Homo sapiens: one gene and its partner. The protein of the gene in region 1 purifies or fractionates together with the protein of each later gene. This does not show direct contact. Each region holds a gene or a part of one and is shown on either strand. Other genes may lie near its edges.

What was found.
Region 2: the proteins of PEDS1 (region 1) and NCR3LG1 purify together in Homo sapiens (co-immunoprecipitation; one large-scale study listed by IntAct). This does not show direct contact.

What each region holds. Positions count from the first base shown.
Region 1 is NC_000020.11:50,117,700-50,120,513, reverse strand, and holds the end of PEDS1 (plasmanylethanolamine desaturase 1), read left to right. Parts: 3' UTR 1-2,260; downstream 2,261-2,814. UniProt on the Homo sapiens protein: Plasmanylethanolamine desaturase involved in plasmalogen biogenesis in the endoplasmic reticulum membrane.
Region 2 is NC_000011.10:17,358,024-17,361,852, forward strand, and holds part of NCR3LG1 (natural cytotoxicity triggering receptor 3 ligand 1 precursor), read left to right. Parts: intron 1-3,829. UniProt on the Homo sapiens protein: Triggers NCR3-dependent natural killer cell activation.

The DNA of each region.
Region 1 (2,814 bases):
CCACATATATATATGGGTATATATATATATATAGCAATATATATATTGCTATATAAGCAATAGGTAATGCTTGCATAGGTAAAGAATAAGAATCACGCCGGGTACAGTGGCTCATATCAAATAATATAAACAGGGCTAGAGTATGGATAAGCTGACCCTGGACAGTGGGCCAAATCCAGCCACTTGCTTTTCTATAGCTCAGAAGCTTTTGTGGGTTGTTTGTTTGTTTGTTTGTTTGTTTGTTTTTTAGAGACAGGGTCTTGCTCTGTTGTCCAGGCTGGAGTGCAGTGGCACAATCACAGCTCACTGTAACCTCAGACTCCTGGGCTCAAGTGATCCTCCCACCTCAGCCTCCTGAGTAGCTAGGACTACAGATGGACACCACCACATCCAGCTAATTTTTTTTTTTTTTTAGAGATGGGGTCTCGCTATGTTGCCCAGGGTAGTCTCAAACTCCTGGCCTCAAGTGATCCTCCCACCTCAACCTCCTGAAGCACTGGGATTACAGGTGTGAGCCACCATGTCAGCCACGAGCATTTTTTAAATGGCTGGGGGAGGGGGAACAATATTTCCTAACACAGAAAATTCAAATTCCAGTTTGTAAAGCTGAATTGGCACACAGCCATGCCCCTCATTTACATATTGTCCGAGGCTGCTTTTGCACTGCAGTGGCAGAATTGAGTCGTTGCATCGGAGACCACGTGGTCCACACAGCCTAAAATATTTACGATCTGGCCCTTTACAGAGAAAAGTTACCAACCTCTCCCTAGTCTAGAATGAAGGGTAAATTGCTCCCCATTCATGTTCCCTCAGGTACTCAGTTCCCCTCCTTAGAGGCCATCATTTTGACAAGACACTTGCAATGCCTTATGTAGGCAGAGGGGTATGTCTGCCCCACTCCTTTTCACACAATATGTAGGATATTATGCACACAGTTCTGCACCTTGCCTTTTTTCACTTAATATATTTTGGAGATAGTGTTATCATTAATGTTCACAAACCATTATTATTTTTTACAGCTGCATAGTGTTCCACCTTCAGGATGGAATGGACTTGACTTTTTTTTTTTTTTTTTTTTGAGACAAAGTCTTGCTCTATTACCTGGGCTAGAGTGCAGTGGTGCAATCCCAGCTCACTACAGCCTCTGCCTCCTGGGCTCAAGCTATCCTCTCTCAGCCTCCCATCCCAAGTAGTTGGGACTACAGGTGCATGCCACCATGCTGAGCTAATTTTTTTTTATTATTTTTAGAGACGGGGGTCTTGCTTTGTTGCCCAGACTCGTCTCAAACTCCTGTGCTCAAGCAATCCTCCTGCCTCAGACTCCCAAACTGCTGGGATTACAGGCTTGAACCACGAGTGTGTTTTAAATTTTGATAGTGCATACCAAATTGTCTTCCAGAGGCCATGCCGGTTTAAGTTCACAAGTTTTCAGAGTCCCTGTTTCCTCACACCCTTGCCAACACAGCGTGTTATCAAATGTTTTGTTCTTTGCCAATCTGATAGGTGGTTTTAATTTGCATTCCTCTTACTGTATTTCATTGATTCTAAGATGTCACTGATTCTAAGATGCATCCTGATTTCAGAAGTTCACATGTAAAAATGTGGCTGGGTGTGGTAGCTCACGCCTGTAATCCCAGCACTTTGGGCGGATCACGAGGTCAGGAATTCAAGACCAGCCTGGCCAACATAGTGAAACCCCGTCTCTACCAAAAATACAAAAGAAATAATTAGCTGGGTGTGGTGGCGGGTGCCTGTAATCCCAGCTACTTGGGAGGCTGAGGCAGGAGAATTGCTTGAACCCAGGAGGCGGAGGTTGCAGTGAACTGAGATCGCGCCACTGAACTCCAGCCTGGGCGACACAGCGAGACTCTGTCTCAAAAAAAAAACAAAAAAAAAGTAAAAACGTATAGCTTCAAATCACTGAAATACAATATGTTTTGTGAGATTGGGTATCTTACTGTGAGTTTAAAATGCATTTGCATTTCCTCATCTGTTCATGTCCTTTTCCTATTTTTCTTGGAAGGGAGGGTAGCATTGGTTAAGAGTGTAGGGTTCAAATCCCAGTTCTGCCACTTACAAGCTTGTGACTTTGGGCAAGTTACTTAACCGTTCTGTGTCTCAGTTTCCTCACCTGCAAAATGGGAATAATAATGGTACCTACCTCATAGGATAGGTGTGAAGATTAAATACATTATTATATGCAAAATACCATGTTCCTGGAATATGGCAAATGCTCAATAAATATTTGCTGTAACTGTCATCTTTGAGTTATTTTTTCTTAATGAGTTTCAAGGGCTCTTTATACGTTAAGGAAACATCCTTTTTGTCCCCCCACCTCCCTGCCCCAAACCCCAGTTTTCATTCCTTTTTCCTTGACCACAGAAGTAACATATAATACAAAATTAAGACATTACAAAAATTGTATCAGAAGAAGCCAATGGAAACAACTTAGATGTCCATTGATAGAGTGAGTTAATGAAGTACACCAAGACCCCCTGCCCACCCATCCCCACCGCTTTTTGACTGTATATTTCGGAAACTACATCAGACATTAAATAAGATGTCTCAGCGCCATGGCTAGACACACCTCAGGGAGCCATGACTCCACATAAATGCCATAGAATTTCACTAGCAAATGCATCACACATCCTGTTTGTTTGTTTGTTTGTTTGTTTGTTTGTTTTTAGATGGAGTTTCGCTTTGTTGCCCAACCTGGAGTGCAATGCTGCAGCAACCTCTGCCTCCCAGGTTCAAGTGATTCTCCTGCCTCAGCCTCCCGGGTAGCTGGGATTACAGGCATGAGCCACCATGCTC
Region 2 (3,829 bases), on another chromosome or scaffold:
TAATAGACTTTTTTTAAGGACAGTTTTAGATTTACAGAAACATTGCAAAAATAGTATGAGAGTTCTCATATCACTCACGCCCTGCATACCATTTCCCCTGTTATTAACATCTTGTATTCGTATGGTACCTTGATATAATTAATGAACCCATATTGACATTTTACTATAATGAAAGTGTGTAATTTATTCATATTTCCTTAGTTTTTACCTAATGTCCTTTTCCTGCTCCAGGATCCCGTCAGAATACCACATTGCATTTAATTGTTATATGTTCTTAGGCTCCTTTTTGCTGTGACAATTTCTTAGACCTTATTTTTGATGTCCTTGACAGTTTGGTGAGGGTATTGGTCAGGTATATTGCAGGATGTCACTAAGTTAGGATTTGTCTGCTGTTTTCCTCATAATTGGACTTGGGGTTATGGGTTTTTGGAGGAACATCGCAGAGGTAAACTGCCATTTTCATCACATCAAATCACATGACTTATGACTGTTGATGTTGACCTTGACCATCTAGTTGAAGTAGTGTTTGTCTGGTTTCTCTACTGAAAAGTTACTCTTCCTCCTATTTTCATACTGTACTCTTTGAAAGGAAGTCACTCTGTGCAGCCCACACTTAAGGTTGGGGGTTACTTATGTTCTTCCTCCTTGGAGGTGGAGTATCTACATAATTTTTTTAAGAATTCTTCTGCATGGGAGATTTATCTCTTTTCTCCCATTTATGACTTTATTCAATCATTGATATCAATAAGGACTCAAGGATATTTATTTTATACTTTGTGTTATAATGCAATACTACTTTATTTTTTCTCAAATTTTTCCAGCTTTGGCCACGGGGAGCTCATTCACTTGGCTCTTGTGTCACATTGACATACCCCAATCATTGTAAGATTTTGTTTTGTTTTATTATTTTATTTTTTGTTTTATTTAATTTTTGGCAAATTCATATCAAGAATTTTGTTTGATTTTAAGCACTTTTTACATTTTGGCACTATAAGATGCTCCAGACTCATCTTGTATATTTCCTCTCTTGTATATTTCCTGGTTCTAGTCCTAGAACCAACCAATACTCCAAGAAACCTTGGTTCCTTTTATTGGAAAGTGATCTTAGAAACCAAGACCTGGACAGTAAGTGTACTTTTTGCTGCTGAGGTATCATTGATTCTAGACCCTCTCAGCCAACAGAGCAAAGAAATACATGTATGCATACTAACCTCTGCATATACACATATCTACAAATATTTCTATGTGTAACCATCTGTACCTATATTACATTAAACATTTGTTCTTACTGATGTCTCCAACTTTAGTCCATCACCACATAGATCATTCTAGTTTCCTTCTCTTGCTCATCTGTAAACTCCCACTCCAACAGTGAGAAACCTGTACCCACCATCCTCTGTTTATTGAATTAATTATTAACCTGTACTCCGATAAGAAACAACTTTATCTACTAGAGTACAGTGCTTTTTGGCAATTCCTTTTTTTTTTTTTTTTGAGATTTTTTTTTTGAGACAGTCTTGCTCTGTTGCCCAGGCCGGAGTGCAGTGGTGTGACCTTGGCTTACTGCAACCTCCACCTCCCAGGTTTAAGCGATTCTCCTGCCTTAGCCTCCCAGGTAACTAGGATTACAGGTGCCCGCCACCACGCCTGGCTAATTTTTGTATTTTTAGTAGAGATGGGGTCTCACCATGTTGGCCAGGCTGGTCTTGAACTCCTGACCTCAGATGATCTGCCCACCTCAGCTTCCCAAAGTACTGGGATTACAGGCATGAACCACCATACCCAGCCCAGATTTTAGCCATTTTAATAAGTATATAGTGGTATCTCATTTGTTGTTTTAATTAGCAGTTCCCTAATGATATAATGTTGGACATCTTTTCATATTCTTACTTGCCATTCGTATGTCTTCTTTTTTTGTGTGTTCATTGGTTGTCCAGGCTGGAGTGCAGTGGTGTGATTACAGCTCACTTCCCAGGCTCAGGTGATTCTCCCAGGCTTCAGCCTCCCAAGTAGCTAGGACTACAGGTGCACATCACCATGCCTGGCTAATTTTTGTATTTTTTGTAGAGATAGGGTTTTGCTGTGTTGCCCAGGCTGGTCTTGAACTCCTGGGCTCAAATGATCTGCGTGTCTCGGCCTCCCAAAGTACTGGGAATTGTATGTCTTCTTTGATGAGATGTTTGTTCAGATTGTTTGCCTATTTTTTAACTGGGCTCATTTTTTAAATTGTTGTGTTTTAAGAGTCCTTTGTACATTCTGGATACAAGCCTTTATCAGATAGATGTCTCACAGATATTTTCTCACAGTCTGTGGCTTGTCTTTTCATTCTCTTAACAATGTCTTTTGTAGAGCAGAAGTTCTTAATTTTAAAAAGTCGAACTTACTACATTTTTCTTTCATGGATCATGCTCTTAACATTGTGTCCTAAAGCTCATCACCAAACCCAAGGCTACCTAGATTTTCTCCTGTGTTATCATCTAGAAGGTTTATAGTTTTACCATTGACATTTAGGTCTATGATGCAGTTTACTTTAATTTTTGTGAAAAGTGTAAGGTTTGTGTCTATATTCTATATGTATTTTTTTTTTTTTTGCATATGAACACCTAATTGTTCCAGCATCATTTGTTGAAAAGACTGTCCTTTCTCCATTGAATTGCCTTTGCTTCTTTGTCAAAGATCAGTTGAATATATTTGTGTGGGTCCATTTCTGGGCTTTCTATTCAGTTTCTTTTCTTTTTCTTTTTTTCTTTTAATACAGGCTGGAGTACAGTGACACAATCTTGGCTCACTGCAGCCTCTGCCTCCTGGGCCCTGGCAATCCTACCATCTCAGCTTTCCGAGTAGCTTGTGCTACAGGCTCGCGCCACCGCTCCCAGCCAATTTTTGTATTTTTGTAGAGATAGAGTTTCGCCGTGTAGCCCAGGCTGGTCTGGAACTTCTGAGCTCGAGTGATCTCCCCCGTCTCAGCCTCCCAAAGTGTTGGGATTATAGGTGTGAGCCACCACACCCTGCCCTATTCAGTTTCATTGATCTCCCTCTTCTTTCCCCAGTACCACACTATCTTGATTATTGTATTTTAGTAGTAAGTCTGGAAGTCAGGTAGTGTTAGTCCCTCATTTTTGTTGCCTTTCTTCAGTATAGTGTTAGCTATCTGGGTTTTTTCTTTCCATACAAATTTGAGAATCTGTTGATATCTGCAAAATGGCTTTCCGGGATTTTGACTGGGATTGCATTGAATCTAGAGATCAAGTTGGGAAAAATTGACATTTTTTTTTTTTTTTTGAGACAGAGTCTCGCTGTGTTGCCCAGGCTGGAGTGCAGTGGTACAATCTCAGCTCATTGCAACCTCTGCCTCCTGGGTTCAAGCAATTCTCCTACCTCAGCCTCCCGAGTAGCTGGGATTACGGGCATGCGCCACCACGCCTGGCTAATTTTTGTATTTTTAGTAGAGACGGGTCACCAAGTTGGCCAGGCTGGTCTCAAACACCTGACCTCAAATGATCCACCAGCTTCGGCCTCCCAAAGTGCTGGGATTACAGATGTGAGCCACCACACCTGGCCAATGGTATTATATTTTTAATTTCAAATTCCAGTTGCTCAATTGTTCATTCCTGTCAAATAATTGATTTTTGCTTATTAACTTTGTATCCTGCAACTTGCTTTAATCACTTATTCATTCTAGGGATTTTTTTGTTTTTGTTTTTGTTTTTGTTTTTGGCCAAGTCTTGAGATTTTTCTACATAAATCAGGCTGTCTGTTAAAAATACAGTTTTATTTCTTCCATTATTTTATTTTATTTTTTACAGAGGTGAGGTCTCACTATGTTGCC